Linked DNA regions of Homo sapiens. The protein of the gene in region 5 purifies or fractionates together with the protein of the main gene of each other region. This does not show direct contact. Each region holds a gene or a part of one and is shown on either strand. Other genes may lie near its edges. The genes, in order: AP2A2, SH3D19, NSDHL, LSM1, CLTA, APPL1 and SORT1.

Evidence for each region.
Region 1: the proteins of CLTA (region 5) and AP2A2 purify together in Homo sapiens (affinity purification with mass spectrometry; one large-scale study listed by BioGRID and IntAct). This does not show direct contact.
Region 2: the proteins of CLTA (region 5) and SH3D19 purify together in Homo sapiens (affinity purification with mass spectrometry; one large-scale study listed by BioGRID and IntAct). This does not show direct contact.
Region 3: the proteins of CLTA (region 5) and NSDHL purify together in Homo sapiens (affinity purification with mass spectrometry; one large-scale study listed by BioGRID and IntAct). This does not show direct contact.
Region 4: the proteins of CLTA (region 5) and LSM1 purify together in Homo sapiens (affinity purification with mass spectrometry; one large-scale study listed by BioGRID and IntAct). This does not show direct contact.
Region 6: the proteins of CLTA (region 5) and APPL1 purify together in Homo sapiens (affinity purification with mass spectrometry, with the first as the bait; one large-scale study listed by BioGRID). This does not show direct contact.
Region 7: the proteins of CLTA (region 5) and SORT1 purify together in Homo sapiens (affinity purification with mass spectrometry; one large-scale study listed by BioGRID and IntAct). This does not show direct contact.

Annotation. Positions count from the first base shown.
Region 1 is NC_000011.10:1,009,305-1,012,740, reverse strand, and holds the end of AP2A2 (AP-2 complex subunit alpha-2), read right to left. Parts: intron 3,414-3,436; coding exon 3,344-3,413; intron 3,059-3,343; coding exon 2,924-3,058; intron 2,194-2,923; coding exon 2,116-2,193; 3' UTR 501-2,115; downstream 1-500. UniProt on the Homo sapiens protein: Component of the adaptor protein complex 2 (AP-2). Adaptor protein complexes function in protein transport via transport vesicles in different membrane traffic pathways.
Region 2 is NC_000004.12:151,319,106-151,322,605, reverse strand, and holds part of SH3D19 (SH3 domain-containing protein 19), read left to right. Parts: intron 1-3,500. UniProt on the Homo sapiens protein: May play a role in regulating A disintegrin and metalloproteases (ADAMs) in the signaling of EGFR-ligand shedding. May be involved in suppression of Ras-induced cellular transformation and Ras-mediated activation of ELK1.
Region 3 is NC_000023.11:152,848,063-152,851,562, reverse strand, and holds part of NSDHL (sterol-4-alpha-carboxylate 3-dehydrogenase, decarboxylating), read right to left. Parts: intron 1,299-3,500; coding exon 1,140-1,298; intron 1-1,139. UniProt on the Homo sapiens protein: Catalyzes the NAD(P)(+)-dependent oxidative decarboxylation of the C4 methyl groups of 4-alpha-carboxysterols in post-squalene cholesterol biosynthesis. Also plays a role in the regulation of the endocytic trafficking of EGFR.
Region 4 is NC_000008.11:38,162,839-38,166,493, forward strand, and holds the end of LSM1 (U6 snRNA-associated Sm-like protein LSm1), read right to left. Parts: intron 1,003-3,655; coding exon 832-1,002; 3' UTR 501-831; downstream 1-500. UniProt on the Homo sapiens protein: Plays a role in the degradation of histone mRNAs, the only eukaryotic mRNAs that are not polyadenylated. Probably also part of an LSm subunits-containing complex involved in the general process of mRNA degradation.
Region 5 is NC_000009.12:36,204,421-36,207,920, reverse strand, and holds part of CLTA (clathrin light chain A), read right to left. Parts: intron 3,201-3,500; exon of another isoform or gene 1-3,200. UniProt on the Homo sapiens protein: Clathrin is the major protein of the polyhedral coat of coated pits and vesicles.
Region 6 is NC_000003.12:57,234,229-57,237,728, reverse strand, and holds part of APPL1 (DCC-interacting protein 13-alpha), read right to left. Parts: intron 2,164-3,500; coding exon 2,065-2,163; intron 238-2,064; coding exon 178-237; intron 1-177. UniProt on the Homo sapiens protein: Multifunctional adapter protein that binds to various membrane receptors, nuclear factors and signaling proteins to regulate many processes, such as cell proliferation, immune response, endosomal trafficking and cell metabolism.
Region 7 is NC_000001.11:109,314,419-109,317,918, forward strand, and holds part of SORT1 (sortilin isoform 1 preproprotein), read right to left. Parts: coding exon 3,435-3,500; intron 2,541-3,434; coding exon 2,432-2,540; intron 361-2,431; coding exon 254-360; intron 1-253.

The DNA.
Region 1 (3,436 bases), on a different chromosome or scaffold from region 5:
CCTGGGATCTGCAGTTGGGCAGGGCTGCCCCCAGCAGGGTCTGGGCTGGTAAGAGAAGCTGCCTCTGGCTTTGGGCCCCTGCCCTCCCTCCATTAGGACTGTTCCGTCTCTGGCGAAGCCCACCGTCCTCCGGGGGCCACCCCCATCTGCCCGAGAGCCCCTTCTGCACCATCTGTGGTAGGATCAACTGGAGGATCCCCACGGGGCCTCCCGTTCCCCAGGAAGGAGCCCTGGGCTGCACCTCAACACACTGTACAGTGGGGAGCCCTGCGGCCAGGCTGGAGGGGTTCCCGCATGACCTGAGTCCCAAAAAGCTCCACCACACACCCAGAATCAAACCGGCGGAGCAAAGGGCAGGTCACTTTCTGATGCCCGCTGCCCGTGAGCCCACTGCTGAAGGACAGGTCGGGGACCTTGGGGTCTGTGCCTCACGCGACCCCCGGGGAGCTATGAGGGTTACATGGGATGCTTTCCCCCCAAAGAAAGCGCGTGATCCGGGGTGCAGTTCTAGCCTTTATTTTTCTTTGACGAGGAGTGCCACACTGAGGGCCCCTCTGCAGCGCCGCACAGGGAAGCGGTGCCTCGGGGAGCAGCCTTTCCTCTGATGGCGGGAGGGGTCAAGGGATGCAGGAGATCCACGGCAGCACACGCAGCCTGCAGGCGCAGCACACAGGCAGAGCACTGCCCAGCAGCTGGAACATGAGAATGAGGGCCACACCACCCAGCTGCAGCACAAGCCCAGCACGGCGTGTCACGGCACCTGGCACCACCAGACCCAGAATGGCCTGTGCGAGAGGCGCACGCCACTGACGTGGCTATGCTGTGATCAAAGCCCGACACGCCGGAAGAAGAGCCGCAGACATTGTGGGGTGCACACACTGCAGGGGAGCTGTGGAGACCCTGATGGGTCCATGAGCCCCTGCAGCTGCCCCAGGGACCCGCACAGCAGGCAACTGAGGGCCAGGGTGAAAACCCTCAAGCACATGTGGCCACCCACCCTCCCTGCCTCCACAGCATGTCAGGAAGCCAGAACCTGTGCTGGGTGTGTTTAGGACAAACAAGGCCACCATCCTGGGGACAGAGCGCAAGGCCCCAGCCTTGGCTCCTAGGCCGGCCCCACTCTCTCGCCTCTCAGGTGTCAGACGTGCAGCCTGGGTGCTGAGTCCAGATGACAGGTGAGACACAAGCCGCAGGTGGCACATGGCATGCGGCCAATGGCCCCTTCACTTCCTGACCACACAGAGGCGTCCCTCCTCCACAGCCCCTCCAGGGACGACTGGACGGGGCCGGTGGAAGGACTCAGGCCTGCACCGTGGCCTGGGGACGCCCACTCTGACAGGAAAGAGACGAGCACACCTCTGAGTCTTGCGCCACCGGCCCACACTTTACCCTGGAGTCCTGGGGGCCCTGCGGGGCCGGCAGGACGCTCCTCCCCTGGCTGCACATCCAAGGCCTCGGCGACTGCAGGAGCATAACAGACGCCCTTCACAAACAGGAGCTGGGAAAGGAGAACAGTTACATCCGGCCAGGACACGTGCTTTTGCCAGAAGTCATTACAAATACAAATGTTTCTAAATTCTAGATTAAAATCCTGCCTGGGAAAACAGTCCAGCTGGGACTGCAGCAAAACCAGGGTCAGCTGTGCTCCTCCCAAGGGCCCAGGACGACGCCAGGTGTGCAGCCACCAGGACGGCCACACACCAAGGCTCAGCCCACGCCATGCACAGTGGCACTGCTGCTCCCAGAGGCTCCGAGGCGGGGTGGGCGGCAGCACGGGCCATCTCAGTGACACTCCCACAAACGCCACGTTCACGCCAACTTCTAATTTCCCTTTAATTTGTAGATTTAACCACAGAACTGTCTCGATTTTTATAAAAATTGATCCCAAGATCCACCTTCTGCCGTGGCTGCCACAGTCCAGGCTGAGCTTTTCCTCCTGAGCCACACACGTGTGTTCCCGTCCAGCCCAAAGGGGAGAGGTGTGGGGCGGCGGGGCGGGGAGGCGCCTTGTGCTGTGGCACTGGACACGGTGCTCATCTGCAGGATGGCCACGAAGACAAACGGCACAGACGAAGACAACACAAGACACACGAGCCTGGTCTTCCATCCTCAGGACTAAAACTGCGCTGAGAGCAATTCACATAATCTCTGAGAAACGGCTTCCTTACTTGTGCGCAGCGTGAGCCGGTACATCTGAAACAGAGAGCACAGCAGGTCAACGGGCACGCCGAGGCTCACACAGCCCTCGGGTCCAGGATCCGCCATGCAGAACCCTGTGGGCCATGCCCAGGGACCACTCTCTGGAGGCACCCACAACTCGGCAGAGGCCTGAGCACCACACACACTGTCAGCATGAAAACTGAGGGCTGGCATGGGAGCGCCTGGCGTCTCGTACGTAGCTGGCGGGAGTGCAAAGTGGCACGGCCACCTGGAGAAGCTGTGGGATGTTCTTGCAGCACTAACCACACACAGGCCCTGGGCGACAGCAGCACTCCTGGGTGCCACCCAAGTGAAACGGAGACAGGTGTCCGTCGCCAGAACGGGACGTGGTGAGAAGGAACAACGCGGTGACAGAGAGGAACAGCTGGGAGAGCCACCGCCCAGGGCCAGGCTGCTCCATGGTGGGACGATGCTCCACGGTGGCCAGCTGTGGGGAGGCTGGGATGCAACCATGTATTGACAGGGTGGTGGTTAAACAGGCACACAACATCTGTCACAACTGACTGAACTGCACTAGGGATGATGCTCCACGGTGGCCAGCTGCGGGGAGGCTGGGAGGCAACCATGTATTGACAGGGTGGTGGTTAAACAACATCTGTCAAAACTGACTGAACTGCACTAAAGAGCTACACATCTCACCACGTACATTGTGCCAGAATAAAAAGCAACTCAAGTGTGTTCCACCATTTCCTGAGGGCCTGACCTGGGCTTGCAGGTTCGGCTCCAAGCGCAGCAGGCATCCAATCTGGGTGGTTTTCGTGTGGATGATTCCAGCTCCCACGAAATTCGCAGGATTAGGATCAACTTCTTCAAGAAGTGCAGAACCAAATCCAATGATCTGTCCAAAGAAACAGGAGAATGAGGACCCTGGCGCGGGGTCGCGGGCAGCGTGTCCCCCGGGGCCGCCCCTCCAGACCCTGGCGCTGGGTCGTGGGCTGCGTGTCCCCCGGGGCCGCCCCTCCAGACCCTGGCGCTGGGTCGCGGGCTGCGTGTCCCCCGGGGCCGTCCCTCCAGACCCTGGCGCGGGGTCATGGGCTGCGTGTTCCCCGGGGCCGTCCCTCCAGACCCTGGCGCGGGGTCACGGGCTGCGTGTCCCCCGGGGCCGTCCCTCCAGACGTGTTACCTTGGCTTTGGTGACTTCTGTGTCCATTGGGTGCTTTGCTTTGAAGATGTTCTGCACTTCCTGCTGTGGACTGTGAGAAACAGCAAAGGCGAG
Region 2 (3,500 bases), on a different chromosome or scaffold from region 5:
TCTTTATAAAATGTATTTATGTTTCCCAGCTTTTAAAGTAATAAAATATCTTCAGCATGATTCTAAAATAAATAAAAAGCTCAGTTGAATTTTTTTTTTTTTTTTGGCAGAATTATAGGCAATCAAGTACTGAGGTCAATTCAGGAAAGGTTTTTTTTTTTTTTTTTTTTTTTTAGGCAGAGTCTTGCTCTGTCGCCCAGGCTGGAGTCTAGTGGCGTGGTCATGGCTCACTGCAACCTTCACCTCCCAGGTTCAAGTGATTCTCATGCCTCAGCCTACAGAGTGGCTGGGATTACAAGTGTGCACCACCATGCCTGGCTAATTTTTCTATTTTTAGTGGAGACGGGGTTTCACCATGTTGGCCAGGGTGATCTCGAACTCCTCCCACCTCAGCCTCCCAAAGTGCTGGAATTACAGGTGTGAGCCACTGCACCTGGCCAGTGAGGGTTAATTCTGTAGTAGCTCATGATGCATGAGATTAATAAGCAGTTATAGGAAAGTAAATGGGGAGCAGAGAGTATTCCATTGTTTGGGTTTCATGTGCTGAGGCTAAGGTGTCGTAAATCTGGCACTATGTGAAATATTTACTGTTGATGGTGGTATCCAAGATCCTTAATTGCCTGACCTGACAGAGAGTGGTAATATGAAAGCTAGACACAACACCTGAATTCTTGGGGGTGTCTCACTAATCCACCAAATGCCCATTACAAACAAGGAAGAGAGGATGTGGGTACACTAATCCAGTGGTTCTCAAACTTTTGCCACATGTATCTGAATTGCCTGAAGGCCTTGTACACGCTCAGTATCTGATCACTTGGTCTGGGATAGGGCCTGATAATTTTCATTTTTGACACATTCCCAGATAACATTTATGTTGCTGGTTCAAAAGGATGATGCACTTTGCAAACTCCATGTAATTAAGAGAGAAATCACACCCCAACACAGATTGTTAAATTCTAAGAAATAGTTCCTTTGGCTAATTTGTCCTTTTTAGTAGATCAGATGAAAACCCATGAGATAAACATGGAGATTTCCACAGGCTAACTTATAGGACTTAGTTTCCATTGTGGGTTTTCTCGGTAGCTTAAAGGATTTCATGGTTGATTTATACAGCCTGGCATTTATGATCAACTTCATTTTTGTTTCTTGGTTTTTTTCTTTCTGTTATTGATTGCATATTCTTCATCTCTATCTGCACAACTGAGATTGGTGTGTTAGTGCCACTGTGTTAGTGTTAGTTAGTGCTAGCCAAGGGCAAGAAGTGGAGGGTGGGGGGAATAGGCGGACGAGATTGGGTGACCAACTCTTCCCAGTTTCCCAGGACTTTTCCAGCTTTTAAAACTGAAAGTCCCCCATTCATGGAAACTCCTCAGTCCCAGGCAAATCAAGGATAGTCACCCTAGAGGAAGGATAGCTTGGGTGGGGGAAGAAGGGAGGATAAAGGCTACTGATAATGTTATTTATACTAACATCCCTGCTTTAGTCCAGGTGCTTTTTTCACTCAACATTAAGTTTGTAAGATTTATTTGTATTGTTACATGTAGCTGTGGGTTTTTGTTTGTTTTGAGACAGAGTCTTGCTCTGTTGCCCAGGCTGGAGTGCTGTGGTGTAATCTCAGCACACTGCAACCTCTGCCTCCCAGATTCAAGTGATTTCTCCTGCCTCAGCCTCCCAAGTAGATGGGACTACAGGTGCATGCCACCATGCCCAGCTAATTTTTGTATTTTTAGTAGAGGCGGGGTTTTGCCATGTTGCCCAGGCTGGTCTTGAACTCCTGACCTCAGGTGACCCGCCTGCCTTGGCCTCCCAAAGTGCTGGAATTACAGGCGTGAGCCACTGTGCCCGGTTCTGTTTTTTTTGTTTGTTTGTTTTCATTGTATAAATATATACCACAGCATTTTGCCTATTATTTTTTATTGATTTATTGGAGTTCTTTGTTTACCCAGGAATCTCAACTTTTGTTGGTTATGTGTGTTACAAATATCTTCTTCCACCTCCACTCTGGCTTACTTTTTCATTTTCTCTATGGTTTCTTTCGATGTGGAAATTCTTCATTTCAGTATAGATGAATTTATGAATCTTTTCCTTTATAATTTGTGTCTCTTCCCCCCTCACCCCCTTTAAGAACATGATTTCTATCCAAGGTCATGAAAATATTCTCCTATATTTCCTTTATTGTCCCCTAAAAGCTTTGTAGCTTTCCTTGGGGAGAAATGCCATAGCTTTCATCAGATTCTCAAACAGATTTGAGAATCTCTGCCTGACATACAACATTTTAATATTATTTCTCCAAAGGGAGGATATACAAGATTCTGGATCCTCCTCCCAACATCTGGAAGAGTAGTAGGCACATAATAGGGCTTACTAAATGCTAACTAAATTTACTCTTTCTATATTTTGATGTGTTTATGGTAAACCCTGGAAGGACTGATATAACTGTTGTCTGTTGTGCTTTGAGTAAAATAACTTTAATATCATCAGTATGAGGGCACAGAAGAACATTCACTGTGTTCACGGTGTACCAGGTGCTTCTTTATGTTATCACCTGTGAGGTAGGTATTATTTTCTTCATTTTATCATTGAAAAGACTGAGGCTCACAAACATTTAAGCAACTTATCCACAGTCCCTCAGCTAGTAAATACTGGAATGGTGATTTGAATGCAGGTTTTTTTTGAAGTGGAAGTCCATGTTTTTCCAGGTGATCACACTGACTGCTCATATAAGTCAGTTACTATTGATGCTCCACGCATTTATACCTGTATGCTGCTTGCTGTATTCTAGAAGTACTTTACATTTATGTGGTGCTTTTCTATTTATGAAGGGCTTTCACAACTGCATTCATTTGGATTCTTACAACAAACTGAGAGGGAAGAGGGTAAGTTTTTTGTTCCCATTTTAAAGATGAGTAAACTGAGACTCAGAAATGTTAGAAGGTTTTATCTAAAATTACACAACTAGGTATAGCTGAACCTCAGTCACCTCTATTGTGTGTTGCAAGTTGTAGAGGTTTTTTTAGTTGATTCATATAAGATGTCAGGTCATATCCTCTCAGAGTCTGTGGCTTTGTCTACTAAGTTAGATAGTTTTGAAAACTGCATTAGTTCTCTGGACCACCAGCTTACTGTTTTTTGTTATTAGAATTCCAAAGTTGTCTAATTTATTTTGAGAAAGTTATTTTAAGTTCCATGGAAACTATGAGTAGATTTACATGTTGTTTAAAAATCCTGTACTCATCACATTGTTTAAGAAGACCTGGGCCAGGTACAGTGGCTTACGCCTGTAATCCCAGCACTTTGGGAGGCCAATGCGGGTGGACTACCTGAGGTCAGGAGTTCGAGACCAGCCTGGCCAACATGATGATACCCCATATCTACCAAAAATACAAAAAATTAGCCAGATGTGGTGGTGGGCACCTGTAATCCCAGCTACTCGGGAGCCTGAGGCAGGAGAATCGCTTGCTAGGGAGGTGGATGTTGCAGTGAACTGAGATCACACCACT
Region 3 (3,500 bases), on a different chromosome or scaffold from region 5:
AACTTTGCAGCGGAAGCAATGGCCTTAATATTTCATCAACAAACCATATAGCGAATGACACCAAAGCCAAGAATAAGGGCCCAGTGACAGGCTGAGGGAAGCCATCCATAATAAGTACAACGGGCACAGGATTGGCATCCCAACTAGATCAACAAGGAAGCAAAGGTAACCCCAAAGACAAAGGGGCAAAGGACACAGACAAACATTTCACACAGGAGGAAGCCTGAAAGCCGATCACCCAGTGGCAGAGTGGCTGGTTACTTGGTCAGGGAGGACATGTGACTCTGAACATCAGTGAAGCACCACTTCATACTTCTCAGAATGGCAACACCAAAAAGTCTAGTTATGCCCAGTGTTGGCAAAGATGTGAAGCAATGGGGCTTGTGCCACATTGTGGATATGGAGGTAAAATTGACATAGCAGCTTTGCTGAGCCATTTGGCACCATCTAATAAAATTCAAGATATTCATACCTGTACAACATGGATGAAGCTTGAAAACATCATGCTAAGTGAAAAAAGTCAGGCACAGAGGTACAAATATTACATGATTCCATTTATATGAAATGTCCAGAAGAGGCCAATCCATAGATGGGAAGTAGATGAGTGGCGGCCAGGGGCTGGGAGGGGAAGAGAGGGGATGGCTACAAGATTTCATTTTGGGGTAATACAAATATTCTGGAGTTAGATCATGGGAGACAGTTGCACAGCTTTGTGGATGTACTGAAAATCACTGAATTGCACACTTTAAAAATGTGAAATTTGTGGTACATGAATTATATCTCAATTAAAAAATCAAGACCCTGTGGCCCAGCACACACTTGTTTTGCAGTTGGAACAATACAGCCCATGGACGGCTTTTGAAGTCAAGTTTCACTGGCATACAGCCACAGCCATTTGTTCATTTAAGTGCTGACCATGGCTGCTTTTGTGCTACCAGGACACAGCTGAGTATCTGTGACAGAGATGATGGTTATTCATTCTAAGCAGTAAGAATGTGGTGTTCTTTCCTATAACTTTGAAAATTTTCACAATGAAACAATTGTTTTTCAAACAAATTGGCTGGCTTCTGAGCAAGGGAAGTATCGTGGTTTCCCTTCGTGGGCTCGTGGGAAATCAGCAAGGCTGCATGGTCCATTACCTGTCGGCTGCAGAGGTCACCCAGAAAGAACCGCACCTGGGGATTATCAAACCCTTGCTGGATATCAAATACATTGACAGCATATCCTCTTGCCAGCAACTGCTCCACCATGTGCTGCCCCAGGAATCCAGAGCCACCGATCACTGTGCATCTCTTGGCCTGTGGAAAGAGAGGAACGGTGGGGAAGACCAGGGTAGTGAGGACTGGAAGCTACAGAGTCCAGACTTACATATCATGAGCCACTGCAATGGCAGATATACTTGTTTGTTTGGAACTCTTCTTGAGCCAAGTTGGAAGCTTTATATCATCCTGGTGTTCCATCACTAGTGCAACCCTAACCTTCTCTCCTGGGATCAGTAAGGAGGGAAGAGAGATAGCGAATGACACTGAGATTGACTTTGGTTGGGTTTGATGACAAGATCCATGCTTTGTATTCAGTGAAAGGAAATCAAACCACCTATGACCAAAACTGGACAATCTAAAAAATACCCCAAAAAACAGTGATACCTTCTTGTTCCCGATAGCTGATCCCTGGGCGCTTCTCTAAGGACAAAACAAAACAAAACAAAACGGCAGCCATTTGGTAGCTGATAGCTTGCACTGAAAACAACAGAAAGAAGAAAGCAGTCTCCATACTTGCAGGACAAAGTCAGTCCCTTTCCCTCTCTGGCCACAACAGGGCTGGGCTGTGTGGCTCTGGGCTCATCGCCCAACCCCTTCTTGCCTCAGCCTAGAAATCTAAGACCGCCTTGATGGGATCTCCTGGTGGGGCTGCAGTGAGGATGGATGAGCCCAGGGCTCTGCTTTCCCTCCTCCGAACTACAAGGAAGTTGAAGAAATGGGGAGAGCCATGGTGTTTATGTCTCAGCCTCCACAACACACACGATTCCTTGGGTAATTCCAACTCTGGTGACTGGGCATAATGAAAGGACACAGTAGCACATGCAGGCACTTAAATACCCTCATTTCAGGATGTTGATGCCAAACTGTGGCTGCTGCACACCAGACAAGCTGGCTATGGGTGTCTGTGAGGAGGACCTGTGATATCCCTCCTCCCTAGGGTCTTTCTAAAACTGTATCTGGGCCTCCTTAAGATGACAACCTCCAATTTCCTTAGCTCATATACAGTAAATCCAACTTGGGTTTGTGGAAATGAAAGATCTTAAAGAAATTATGTTCTAGATTTAAAAAACAAACAAATCTCCCTACTTATTCCTTAAACATCAACACAATTGAGCTATGCAAGAGACTCAAGGGATGCCAGGGCCAGACATCCTCTCTAGATCCACCTCCCTCCCAGTTGGGGTGTCCCATCTGAAACAGCACTCATACTGGATTCCACCAGGCCCAGCTGGAGCTGGCACTGTACTTTACCTTCATCTGTCCATGTGCAATCTACTAACAAAATCAGCCTCACCATTCTTCTACCACCCAAAACTAACTTCCCAACCTGTTCTTTTCTAGGCTTTATTCTGATTATTCCTAAACACATGTAATCATACCAGGTTACATGATTTGCACCTGGACTGAGATGTATATTTCCTCAAGTCATAGCCAAATTAAATACAAAACTCACATCAATCCCTTTTCTAGCAATCCCTTTCTTCTCCCCTCCTCCCAAGTCAGCTGTACAGGCAAACTGTAGCTATTTAGAATAACTCTGAGCTGCCTGTTTCCCAACCTGGATTTCTGCAGTTTACTAAAAGTCTGGCTAAGCCCAAAGACAGTCAGAACTAGATATGTTACTAAAGCATCCTGAAAGATTTCAGACTGCCTTGTTTATTTCATTTGGCATCTCTAGTTACAGGTGTTTCAAAAGGTTGCTAATCTCTTCAAAAAACAACCTTGCTGTTAGTCCAGTGTGATTTCATTTCACGATTTTAATTGTGACTAATCAGTACGCTACTCTTGGACAATGTGACGTGGATTATTTTATGATATTGAAATGTTCTATCAATAATGTTTGGGATGAGTAGGCCAATGGCTGTTCCCTGGAGACCCTTGTAGTGATGGGAATCAAACTGGCCTTTACCCCAGGGAAGTCAAATGTGTGATAATCATACCTATAATGCTGTGTGATTACAGGAGATCACATGAAACTTTTCATGACCACTTTTTACTTCTCACAGCCACAGTGGACAAGAATGAACATGTACTAACAATCAAGTATAAAACTCAAGACTGGAAACAGCAAGACTCCATAATGGGTTACTGAGGTGAGTTATAAGATCAACCTCTTGGAGACAGTGTTAAGAATAGGGGCCAGGCACGGTGGCTCATGCCTGTAATCCCAGCATTTTGGGAGGCCAAGGTGGGTAGATCACCTGAGGTCAGGGGTTCGAGACCAGCCTGGCCAACATG
Region 4 (3,655 bases), on a different chromosome or scaffold from region 5:
TTGAGACGGAGTTTCGCTCATTGCCCAGGCTGGAGTGCAATGGTGCAATCTTGGCTCTCCGCAACCTCTGCCTTCCAGGTTCAAGTGATTCTCCTGCCTCAGCCTCTCAAGTAGCTGGGATTACAGCATGCGCCACCACGCCCTGGTAATTTTGTATTTTTAGTAGAGACAGGGTTTCTCCATGTTGGTCAGGATGGTCTTCAACTCCCGACCTCAGGTGATCTACCCGCCTCGGCATCCCAAAGTGCTGGGATTACAGGCATGAGCCACCGCCCCTGCCGAACATTTGTATTTCTTAACAGATACAAACATGGAAACAGGAGAGGACCCCTGAGATGACTGGAATAAAAATATTCCTTCCTAAGTAGCCAGCTACTTGAAACTGTGACTGAAGGGGGAAATCCCAGTATGTGGACTGCTTATACCTTTGAGAGCAGAAACTTAATTAATCTATTAATCTATTCATTACAGGTAACTCAAACTTGGAAATAACATGACACTTTTGAGATTCATATTTTATTTACAAGTAAATGAAGACTGTCCCTGTAAACTCTAATTTGGGATATGAAGAACAATATAAAGAAGTAGTTGCTGGTGCCACAGTGATGTGTGAAGGAGTCTATGCCACTGTTTCTTTAAACAGTGATTTTGTTATTAAAAAAAAAACCCACCTACACGATTTCTTCATGTTGCATATGTAAAATAATTAAAAATAAAAGTGACTTTTCAAAACTCTACAGTCTGTGATCAAATGCGTGAGGTGGCCAGGATGTCACTTTCACTCAGTGACAGCCCCTACTCTTCAAGAGCCAACAGCCTCTGGGCAAAAGATTAGTACTCATCAAGAGTATCTGCTCGAGGAATGGAAAGACCTCGGTCCTTCAGGGCCTGCACTTTCAACTTCTCTGCTTCCAGCTTGGTCTGCTGTTCCACCCTTTGTTCTTCTAGAATTTCTTCAATGGATACTTGCTGGAGGGGTGTGTCACTCTCCTTTTCCAAGTCCTACAAAAGAGACAGGTTTGAAAACTTCACCTGAAGACCAAGAATAGAAAGCACAGATCTCAAGGCAAATGGATTCCTCTATCAGGCTCAGATTATTTTTCATAACTGTGACAGGAACTGAAATATCCTTCTCCTAGGGACCGGTAAGTTTTTCAAAGAAATGCCTGACAACACTACTATAGGATACATACTTACAATGAGGTTAATAGTGATCAGTATATGTATATATTTTTCAAGATGGAGTCTCTCTGTCACCCAGGCTGAAGTGCAGTGGCGCAATCTGAGCTCACTGCAACCTCTACCTCCTGGGTTCAAGCGATTATCCTGCCTCAGCCTCCTGAGTAGCTGTGATTACAGGCACGTGCCACCACGCCTGGCTAATTTTTGTATTTTAAGTAGAGACAGGGTTTCACCACGTTGGTCAGGCTGGTCTCGAAACCTGACCTCATGATCTGCCTGCCTTGGCCTCTCAAAGTGCTGGGATTATAGGCAGTAATAAGTATTTGTATAACAGAGCTTTATGTGATCCAAAATCCCATATTAGTCAGGATTAATTTTCTATTAGTCCACGATTAATTTCCTTAAAAAAAAAAATTAGGGCTGCTTATAGACAGCTATCTCCCCCACTGCAGAGAATCCAAGAGGGAGGTTATTGAGGCAATGTGGCCTTAGACTTTTTTTTTTTTTTAATTATTTTAAGGACGGGTGGAGTGGCTCACAGTCGTAATCCCAGCACTTTGGGAGGCTGAGGTGGGAGGATCACTTGGGCCTAGGAGTTCGAGACCAGCCTGGGCAACACAGTGAGACCCTAACTAACTCCACCAAAAAACAAAACAAAAAAAAGCTGGTGTGGTGGTGTTCACCTACAGTTCCAGCTACTCAGGAGGCTGAGGTGGAAGGACTGCTTGAGCCTGGGAGGTTGAAGTTCAAGGCTGCAGTGAGCCATGAATGTGTCACTGCACTCCAGCCTCTGCAACAGCAAGACCGTCTCAAAAAAAGTAAAAAGACAAAAATAAAAAGGGATCCTCTTGCCTTTACCTCCTACGTAGCTGGGGCTACAGGTGTGCGCCACCGTACCAGCTCTGTAGTCTAGATCTAAACTGTAACAAGACTCTTTTTCCCTTTACGGCAACAAGTCTTCTAGGGAGAACCTCGGCAGACCATTTAGGTTACTAAACCAATTTGGTCCCAATATTTTTCTCCACTATTTAAAAAATTGCTGCTTAGGTTGGGCATGGTGGCTCACGCTTGTAATCCCAGCACACTGGGAAGCCGAGGCGGGCAGATCACTTGAGGCCAGGAGTTCGAGACCAGCCTGGCCAACATGGCAAAACCCCCGTCTCTACTAAAAATACAAAAAAAATTAGCTGGGCGTGGTGGCAGGTGCCTGTAATCCCAGCTACTTGGGAGGCTGAGGCAGGAGAAGCACTTGAACCTGGGAGGCGGAGGTTGCAGTGAGCGGAGATCACGCCATTGCACTCTAGCCTGGGTGACAAGAGTAAAACTCCATCTCAAAAAAAAACAAAAAATTGTTGCCTAATAAAAAATTCCTTATTTAAAAAATACACACTCATCGTAGATAATATGGAAAATAGACAAACAAGGAAAATTTAAAAATTATCCATAATTCCAGTATGGAGGATTAACATTTTGATAATATCCCTACAATTTTTCTACATATATACTGACTTAAAAAAAATAAACAACCCAGCCAGGTGTGGTGGCTCACACTTGTAATCCCAGCTACTCGGGAAGCTGAGGCACGAGAATCACTTGAATCCAGGAGGCAGAGGTTGCAGTGAGCCAAGATCACACCACTGCACTCTAGCCTGGGCGACAGAGTAAGACTCTGTCTCAAAAGGAAAAAAAAAAAAAAGTAAAAAATAAAAAATTAGCTGGGCGTGGTAACGTGTACCTATAGTCCCAGCTACTCATGAGGCTGAGGGGGGAGGATCACTTGAGCCCAGGAGTTTGAGGCTGCAGTGAGCTGTGATCACACCACTGCAGTCAGCCTAGATAACAAAGTGAGACGCTGCCTCAAAAACAAACCCCTCCCAAAAACCCACAATGCAAATACTGACTTTAATTCGTTTTTTCACTTAAATGTGGCATAGTATGCTTAATATTTTTATTTTTGAATGTTTTATAAACATTTTTCATTAATTATTTTTAAAGATATAGAAGACTTCATGAATTTGCGTGTCATCCTTAAGCAGGGGCCGTGCTAATCTTCTCTGTGTTGTTCCAATTTTAGTAGATGTGCTGCCAATGTGAGCACATTTTTCATTTTTTTAGAGACAGGATCTTGCTCTGTTGCCCAGGGTGGAGTGCAGTGGCACAATCACAGCTCACCATGATCTGAAACTCTTGGGCTGAAGTGATCCTCCTGCCTCAGCCTCCTAAGTAGCTGGAACTACAGGCATGTGCCACCACATCTGGCATTAAATCTTTTTTCTTTTTGTAGAGATGGGGTCTTGCTATGTTGCCCAGGCTGGTCTCAAACTTCTGGCCTCAAGCATCCTCTTGCCTTGGCCTCCCAAAGTGTGAGCCACTGTGCCTGGCCCTTATAAACATTTGCTAACCAATGTCATAATGCAGAAGAACCTTGCTAAAAAAGTATCTCACTGTCCATAGATTCAGTTTATTGTCCTTA
Region 5 (3,500 bases):
GCAGAATGAGTGGGAGGAAAAGGCAAGGCAGGCTGGCTTATAAACCCATAACCCTTTTAGTTTACACAAAGGACTAAACCTGATCGATTTCAACTTGGGTTTCCCTCCACAAGAAGAGTAGAGGTTTCATGACTCCTGTCAAATCATCACTAAGACAACAAAAGTTTGAATGTCAGGCTCTTGCTCCTTTGCAGCTAGCCCAAGACCAAAGAGCTCCTCAGTGACAAGCACATCCCCTGTCAAGGTTGCAGGCCCAGAACAAACAGAAAATCAGACACACACACAGGTGGCCCTCCCCTTATTTGTCCTTCACTTGAAAGTAGCAATCCTCAGCCAAGGCAGGAAGGGGCTCAGGGAGGCTTAGGAGAGGGGAGGGAAGAGGAATACCTGACCTAGGACAAGCTCTGGAGGCACGAATACAATGCAGAACTTCATTCCATAAACAGCCTCAAAGTGGGCACAGAAAAAAATGTTTGCCATCTCTGAGAACTGTGGGTTCCCCAAACCTTCTCAAGCCTTGAAAGAGCTGACAAGCACAAGTGCTACCTGTAATAGGGGAAATGTTCTGGGGTTGTTCTTGATGAGCAAACTCATCCAGCTGCAGGAGTCAGTCACTGCTCTGGCTGGCTGGCTATGAAAAGGAAATTCTTTTCCATGGCTGTCACTGAATAATTCACAGCTCTTGTACTGTGACACTTAGGCCTCAACTTGGGATAAAAGAAGGGAGATGCAGTCTGGGGACTGACAATAGAGTACAGCACACCCACCCCCAGTGCAGTGCCAGGCGCGACGTGCTCCTAGTGCTTTGGTGACCCAGTGGTGAGGCAGCTGGAAGGCAGGAGGCCTGAGGATGCTCTCACAATTAACTGGATGCCCTTCCTGTCTCCGACTTTCCTCTTTCAAACTTCTCATCTTTCTGCCTTATCTCTCGGGTCCCCTTAACATCTAGCTACTGCAGAAGTCACCCAGAGAGAATCATACTTGCTTGAAATGAGCACCCCGTTTTCTTTTTTCTTTTCTTTTTTTCAGACTGAGTCTCGCTCTGTTGCCCAGGCTGGAGTGCAGTGGCGCAATCTCAGCTCACTGCAACCTCTGCCTCCCGGGTTCTAGTGATTCTCCTGCCTCAGACTCCCGAGTTGCTGGGATTACAGGCACACACCACCACACCCAGTTAATTTTCGCATTTTTAGTAGAGATGGGGTTTCACCATGTTGGGCAGGCTGGTCTCAAACTCCTGACCTCAAGTGATCTGCCCGCCTCAGCCTCCCAATGTGCTGGAATTACAGATGTTGAGTCACGGTGTCCGGCCCCCATTTTCTTTTCTAAAAATATTCACTCTTTACCCATAGACAGATAACAAGGATGAATTACTTTATACATCTAAATGGGACCTATTCCTTTGAACTCTAAAGTTTAGAGTCAAACATGGATGGAGAGGGGGAGTAGTCAGCAATATAAAAATCTCCAGGGGAGGGTGTAGACCCTTGGAAGAAGTCCCCCAAAGTGACTCTCAAATGGATCCCACCTCCAACCAGTGAAGAATCACTGGAATAAACTGTAAAAACCATCTCTTCTGTCCTAGAGCCCTGGTGACAATGGCTAGTGTGCCACTAGCGTTATGCTCTCAAGAGTCAGCCCTGTGCTGCAAGGTTCCCACAAGGCAAGTGACCTGCTTCCTAAGCAGCTCTACATTCTCAGTGAGCAGTGGGGAAGTTCCTTCTCTCTGGAACTTAAGAGGTTCATCTGTGAGACCAGCTTACCCAGCATTCTACAGTTCCAAGTACAGAAAGGTACCAAGGCCCAAATTCAATGCCTGGAGGGACTAAACTTTTAAGACTGAGCTCCTAAAAACAGGTGTCATGGCCAGGCGCGGTGGCTCACGCCTGTAATCCCAGCACTTTGGGAGGCCAAGGAAGGCAGATCACGAGGTCAGGAGATCGAGACCATCCTGGCTAACACAGTGAAACCTTGTTTCTACTAAAAACAGAAAAAAATTAGCTGGGCATGGTGGCGGGCACCTGTAGTCCCAGCTACTCGGGAGGCTGAGGCAGGAGAATGGCGTGAATCCAGGAGGTGGAGCTTGCAGTGAGCCGAGATCGCACCACCGCACTCCAGCCTGGGCAACAGAGCAAGACTCCATCTCAAAAAAAAAAAAAAAAAAAAAACAGGTGTCATTACTCCCTCTGAGAACAACGGATTCTGTATACAGAGAATATCCCTTTCTTGACAGTTCAGCAAAACTTCCTTGAAAAAAATTTCTGCAACAGAAAGGCTGTTACCAACATATTCATTATCTAAGTTTGAAAACTTGTGTTAAGTTATTGACGCATCACAGACCCAGAGCGGGGAGGGTCGGCACAGCTACAGTACTTCAGACTAAACTTAAATGCTGGGGTCGCAGGCTGGGGGAGTTCTCAGGGCTCGCAGGGTGCTTGCACACAGTCCCCACTCGGCTTTACCGATCTGAACTTCCACCTGGGAGAAAATCATCTTGAGGGAGCAGAGGACACAGGAGCCTGGACCTGTCAGCACCACCTACTGACCACAGGCTCAACAACAGCCCCACGTAGCTGATGGAAGCCATCACCACTGGCAACCCAGCCTGCACACCAGAGAGCAGTCCTGTGGGACTGGGACTGTGGAGTCCTGTGGACTCCACATGGAACCTGACAGGCACTCCTTGAGCACACCGCCCCCAGAGGAAAGTGACCAGGACACAGGCTCAAGCCGGAATCCAATGAGCTGAAGGGCTGCTAGCATATAAAAGAGAGTCCAACTGCTCTGTCATACTGGACCCACAATAGCACTGGCTGGCTGGCAAAGCCGTTAGCTCTCTCTCCTGCCACATCTCTGTCTAACAGAGCTGCCAGAGACAAGGGCACTTAACCCAACCTGCTTCCTGCCTCTGCATACGAGAACCCAAGGCTCTACCCTGAAAATTAAAAATATCCCCAGGCTCGGTCTGGCCCGTTTATACACTGAAGTGAATGGATTGACTATTCAGTGAAAGTTGGGCTCTGAACCTGCCTGCCCTGAGGGAAGCAACACCACATATCCTCTCTTTGCTGCTTCCAAGAAGGGCTCTAAGTGTAGGGCATTAAAGCCCAGCTGCTGGTGAGTAGTGATATGAGAATGAAAGCGTTTTTCTCCTCACAACTCCTTAACCATCAGTAACTAAATAAAATCTATTTCAAACAGAACATTTTTAAGAAGTCAATTCAAGACTTTTTAAGGCACAAATAAGTACCCACAGAACCCTCAATTCTAAAATAATCATGTTGGAACATCCTTGGCTGCCTAATTACAAAGCACATATTCCTGCCAACGGACCCCTTCATGAAGTGGCTTTCAGGGGGCAGGGCTATATTGAGGAGACTCAACATGACCAAGTCTATAATCATATCCAAAGTAACTAGATCTGGGTGTATTCATGACACCCAGCTTTCGTTTCAGGGTTCCATGGAAAGTAACTTTTCCCTTGGCTGAATCACACCATTACA
Region 6 (3,500 bases), on a different chromosome or scaffold from region 5:
TAGATAGCCTCTGTATTTAATATTAAATCATTAAAATTATCTGAACATAAGTGCTATCATGAAATTTCAATGGCATATTCTGTGAATTCAAGAAAACTTAAGGATTCTTGTTGAAAGTCTATCTATACAGATACTATACTTTTAAAATTATGCTTTTAAAACTTTGATATACAATACCTGTTTTTCATATTCTTTTAAAAGTTTTGAGGTCAGGTGTGTTGCTGCACTTAATTCATTCTATGGAAAAAGCATTCAAATTAGCATATTACTGGGAAAAAAGTTTTAGTTTTTTCTAATTAAATACCTAATTTATTTATTATCACTTAACATAAATATTGTACATGTTTTTTAAAACCTTCATTAAATCACTGGAAAGGGGTACTACCATTAAAGCACTTTAAAAGAAAACTCAAACCATAAAATAGACACTCTCCAGGAATTCAGCAGTGTTCCTGGTGTTTGTTTTTTGCTAATAAAAACTAAGCACTAAATACTTTAAAGCCTAGAAATAAACTGATATAACCTTAGCAAAATCTTTAGAGCATCTACGTTGATGACTGATTATTGCCCTCTGTAGATGCTGATACTAGACTACAGTAAGCACTTAATAACATACAACCAAAATGTGGTTGACCCAGTCATATAACATAGCAACACAGCCATATGAAAAACTTTAATTTAGTTTTTTTGGTGAATATAACAAAGAGAACATTTCTTTAACATATTAATCATATATCTCTGTAGTCAGAAAGCAAAGCTTCAGAGCCTGATCACAAGGAAAAACTAAACAACAACATAGCAACTCTTAAGTACATAATGAAAATGTGAAGCCAGAAAGCAAACAATATGAGAAGGGAAAAAAATAAAACTTGTACGCTTAATTAATCCCAAAGAAAGTATATTACAGAACCTAGGTTGCTGTTTAAGCTTATAATTAAGTTATCCAAACATAGCTTCAAATTTTATTGCTGGTCAATAAGAAAACTTAGTCATACCCTTCATCTTCTTGTACTCCAGAGGTACATCTAATTTTTAGTGCCTTCTTTTAACTAGACAGAGGCAGCCAACTTTCAAATCCTCCACTGAAAAAGGGAAAGTGTTGGCCAGGTGCAGTGGCTCACGCCTGTAATCCCAGCACTTTGGGAGGCCGAGGCGGGCAGATCACCTGAGGTCAGGAGTTCGAGACCAGCCTGGCCAACATGGTGAAACCCTGCCTCTACTAAAAATACAAAATTATCTGGGCGTAGTAGTGCATGCCTGTAGTTCCAGCTACTCAGGAGGCTGAGTCAGAAGAATTGCTTGAACCTGGGAGGTGGAGGGTGCAGTGAGCTGAGATTGCACCATTGCACTCCAGCCTGGGAGACATTAGCAAAACTCCATCTCCAAAAAAAAAAAAAAGGGGGCTGGGTACAATCTCAGCACTTTGGGAGGCCAAGGCGGGCGGATCACCTGAGGTCGGGAGTTCGAGACCAGCCTGACCAACATGGAGAAACCCTGTCTCTACTAAAAATACAAAATTAGCCAGGCGTGCTGGTGCATGCCTGTAATCCCAGCTACTTGAGAGGCTGAGGCAGGAGACTCACTTGAACCTGGGGTGTGGAGGTTGTGGTGACCCAAGATCACACTACTGCACTCCAGCCTGGGCAACAAGGGCAAAGCTCCATCTCAAAAAAAAAAAAAAAAAGTGGGGGTGGGGAAGTGCTCCATAAGATTGTAATAAGCATGATTAGGGAAAATACCAGTGATGACATGGGGTCTTCATTCAAATCTTAGGAAAGATCACTATCAGTGAGTTTAATGGGGGGTTCCCCCCAAACTATGTTTGGGGAGAATGGGCAGATGCTTCAATCGTCTATCACTTTTGTAGTACTACAAACTGTACACTAGTAGTTGAAATGTCAGTTCTGTAATACACTCAATGTTCATTAATCCATTCAACAAATATTTATTACTATGAGCCTAACACAGGGCTAAAGCAGTGGTAAACAAGACAGACACTATCTGTCCTCATGAGGCTTAAAGATTCGTGTTTTAAAAGCATCAAGTTAGTCCTTAGTGTTTTACCTGTGCATCATAAATCCGATGCATAGCTTGATACAACTGGTTCATATAGTTGGAAATAGCTGTGGCATCTTCTTCAAATACACCTAGTAAAGACCTTGTCTGTATAAAACAATAGCAATAAGTTTATGTTAATCATTATACAAATCAGATGGAAAAATATTTTTTCTAAAGGAAGCAAAAATCGTAGGATATTAAAGTTCTAGTAATTCTGAGTTTTAATCTATTTTGTCTCTTTTGATAGTAATGTTAAGAAGTCTTTTTTTTTTGTTCTTAGTTTCACTTCAACAAAGCAGAGGTATTTTCCAACTATGTCACACAAACTTTAGGAGAAACAACAGAGGTATATTTTCATAAACTAAAAATTCTATAAACTAAGAACAAATCAACAGAAACGTTCAAAGCTAAATTAACAGCATTCCATGTAGTATAAATATTTTAAATGTCTTACTTCAGGATAATTTAGTATGATTATTTCTTCTACAGTTTTTGCTAGAAGAGGCCAAACCCCTTCCTGTCCTAATCTAAAAATACCACAGTACACCCTCCCCAACATGGCCGACTCTTCAGCATATAAAATGCTAACTAGGTTTTTCCGAATGCACAATTTGGGGGTTTTCCTTTCTTCTTCTTTATACATGTCTATATTGTTTGGCTTTTGTTTTGTTTTGTCATTTTTCTACCATGCACATTTAAAAATTATCTTCATTTTAGGCCGAGCACAGTAGTTCATGCCTGTAATCTCAGCACTTTGGGAGGCCGAGGCAGGCAGATCATGAGGTCAGGAGATTGAGACCATCCTGGTTAACACAGTGAAACCCCGTTTCTACTAAAAATGCAAAAAATTAGCCGGGTGTGGTGGCACGTGCCTGTAGTCACAGCTACTCAGGAGGCTGAGGCAAGAGAATAGCTTGAACTTGGGAGGTGAAGGTTGCAGTGAGCCGAGATCACGCCACTGCACTTCAGCCTGGGCGGGCGACAAAGCAAGACTCTGTCTCAAAATAAAAAAATTTTTTTAAATTATCTTTATTTTAAGGGGGAAAGCTTATAAGTAAATGTTAAGAATGTCAGGCCGGGTGCGGTGGCTCACGCCTGTAATCCCAGCACTTTGGGAGGCCGAGGCGGGTGGATCACGAGGTCAGGAGATTGAGACCATCCTGGCTAACACGGTGAAACCCCATCTCTACTAAAAATACAAAAAAATTATCCAGGCATGGTGGCGGGCCCCTGCAGTCCCAGCTACTCAGGAGGCTGAGGCAGGAGAATGGCGTGAACCTGGGAGGCGGAGCTTGCAGTGAGCCGAGATCATGCCACCGCACTCCAGCTTGGGCAATAGAGGGAGACTCCGTCTCAAAAAAAAAAAAAAAAAAAGAATGTCAATAAAAATTTGTCAAAGATAAGGAAACTAAGGCTATCAAAGGCAAGGTAGACATACTCAC
Region 7 (3,500 bases), on a different chromosome or scaffold from region 5:
CACAGCAGGGGTGCACTTCTTACAGGACTGTGGACTTTCTCAGTTTTATACACTCAGGAACGCATCACAGACACAGAAAGCACAGTCCATGGTTGACATATGAAAAATGTACGACATGAGAAGATTTGGGCCTGATTTTTCAGGAACAGTACTGCAAGTACCTAGTTTTTGCCAAGAGTAGACTCAGCCATATGCCCTAGATCAGCCTTCTGGCTTGAACTCAGTACCTTGGATTGACTTCTGTGTTCCTTACCTTCCCCCACAGACATATTTCTTCACAATGAGCACTCCTGCTACGACTGTGACCAGCATCAATCCCACGATGGCCAGGATAATTGGAACAGAATTTGACTTGGAATTCTTGAGAAATTAAAACACAAACACAAAAGTTTTAGGCATGCATATCCTAGGACTGAGGTCAAGGCAGCCACTCATTCCCCTCATCTCTTTGTGAATGATCTGCAGTCCTGATGCGCTTAATGATGGCTCTTTTCCAACCCCCCAAGATGAACCATCTCAGTGTTACCAGGAGAATATTATAGCTGGCAGAGAGTCATCTTAGCTCCAACTGCCTTGAACCTTCAAATTCTGTGGTTTAAATGTCAAAGTTACACTGGAAGCCTGGGCAACTGCCTAGATCAAGTATGATTGCTTCACACTACCACTGTTCACAAGTCTTGGGGCTTAAGGGTGGAGTAGGAAAGGGAGACTACTGTAACAGTAGGCTGAATGACTCTAGAACAGGGCCATTATCTGGGAAGAAGCTGTGTCAGAAGAACCAGGCAGGCCATTATATGACACCAAGATTTATTTGTTTACTTAATTTTTTATATATTATTATAAATAAGCCTTATCATATCACTGTTTGCATGTGACCTACCTGCTTCTGGGTGGGAAATAGGGAGTGTGTGTTTTCAATGTATCCCAGAGGAGGCAGAGCTGGATTCTAGGACAAGCTGTGTCCCTGTGGGTGGGAGTCCTGTGCAATCACACACACGAACACTCTGAGGAGAGTCACCAGGAGCCCAGGACAAGGGTGCACAGAAGGAGGAACTCGCCCCCTTACCAATACACACACTCACACACTCCTCTCCCATCATCTCCTTAATCCCACCCCTTGTCAGTCCCTCATCCCTTAGAACAGCAGAGAGGAGGGACTGCAGGTGATCCAGCTTGACCTCTCCTATTACGAATTGGGAAACGGGCCTGCTGTTGAGCATCTGAAGTCATGCTGCTGGTCTAGTGTTTCATTATCAAGAGGTTTCCTCTTTACACATCTCCAGTTCCACAGGTAGTTCAGTGCTACAGATTTGGATGCAGCCTCATAACCTTTTTTTTTTTTTTTTTTTTTTAAATTGAGACAGGATCTCACTCTGTCACCCAGGCTGGAGTGCAGTGATATGATCATGGCTCACTGCAGCCTTGACCTCCCAGGCTCAGGTGATTCTCTCCCTTCAGCCTCCTGAGTAGCTGGGACTACAGGCACACACCACCACATCCGGCTAATTTTTGTATTTTTTTTGTAAAGATGGAGTTTCTCCATGTTGCCCAGGCTGCTCTCCAATTCATAGCCTCAACTGATCTCCCCACCTCAGCCTCCCAAAGTGCTGGGACTATACAGGAGTAAGCCACCATGCCCGACAGGTAACTTGCTTCATTTAAATCAAAACCAGCCCATTACCATAGCTCAATTTTTCACTTTGAACATACTTAACATGACTTGGTCAGAGATCCACCCTACCTATTGCCCAGTGCTCTTCTCTTCCACACATGCACAATTCCAGGTCATGGCCCTTCACAGACAACCTTTTTTTTTTGGTACGGAGTCTTGCTCTGTTGCCCAGGTTGGAGTGTAGCAGCACGATCTCGGCTCACTGCAACCTCCACCTCCCAGGTTCACATGATTCTCCTACCTCAGCCTCCCGAGTAACTGGGACTACAGGCGTAAACCACCACACCCAGCTAATTTTTGTAATTTTAATTTTTGTATTTTTAGCAGAGACAGGGTTTCACCATGTTGGACAGCCTGGTCTTGAACTCCTGACCTCAGTGATCTGCCTGCCTTGGACTTCCAAAGTGCTGGGATTACAGGTGTGAGCCACTGTACCCAGCCCACAGACAACCTTTTTGTTTTCCTAAATGACTCTCAGCCTCAGAAATTTCCACAACTGTATGATTTTAAGAATTTTACAACTTTACAGAATATCATCCCCCAACCCTCAATAAGAAAAGAGCTTTCAGTAGGGTGAGCTTATCACTGGGTTACATGACCCATCCTTCATGCTAACAGCTTCCTGTATAAGGGAAGCCTGAGAGAAGTAGTTTGACCACTTTTTATCAGTAACAAAACTCTTGATGCTTTAACTTTGATTTTTCTTAGCAGAACACAAAATCCCATTTGTACCTGAAAACTAGACCTATTTTAACATACCTGTTTTTCCGGACTCAAAAAGTTGCTTGTGCATTTCTTTTTCAAGTCTTTTACTTCTCGAACTGGATTTACCCCACCCTGGCATTTGTCCCCTGGAATTTTCCGGTACCTACCAGGCAAAGAAGATTTGGTAACAGAAGATAAGGATGTATTCCTGGGTACCTGCCTATTTCTTGGAAACAAGATTTGAAAAGCTGCCGAAAAGCTTCCCATCCTTACGTCATGTTTCAGGCCTGGGGGGAATGTCCACAGGGATGTTTTGGGGGATATTTTGTGTAGTTTCAGGCCTTAAGCAAACTAAGCATCTCTGTCCCCTGCTGTCAGAAACATGCCTGTTCTTTCTACCTAAGAGACTGTGCCAAAGAAATCTGACCCCAAAAAAGCTCATTAACAAGTGGTACAAAATGGGAGAGGGGAAGTTATCAGGGGAGCGAGGTAATGAGGCCCGTCTAGAGCAGCACTGTCCAATATGGTGGCTACTTAAAATTGATTAAAACGAAAATTTCAGTTCCTCGGTTACACTAGTGTCCACAGCTATGTGTGGCTAGTGACTATCATATTGGGCACAGCAAATTACAGAACACTTCCATCACCAAAGAAAGTCCTATCAGACAGAGCTCTCCCTGGCTGTGCCTAAACTGTGCCAGACGAGCGATGGACGTTCATGGCGGATGGGACGCTTCTGTCATTCTGCCTGTGGGTCCCTCGCCTCTCCTCCCTTCCTGGGGGTGGTTGGGCGGGAGGCAGGGGTGCAGGATCTGGCCGAGCTTGTTCTCCTGCTCTGCCTCGTGGTGTTGGTGGGGTTGAGTCCTCTGACACCAAGCACTCATGGCTCACCTCCTGTAGTTGACCCTTGAAGGAGGCCTTCATATCCTGCCCCTCCCCAACCCCGCCAAAAATAGTGCTCTAAAGTAGGGCTTGGATCTCAGTGTGGAGAGAAGCAGCTTTCACTCTGAACAAGAACACCTCATCCATCGTGACAAGGGAGAAAAGGCCACCTCACCCATTTGTTGTTAGGTGTTCTTCTCTTCCGTACAGACAAAACTCCAGGTCGTGGCCCTTCAGTTCT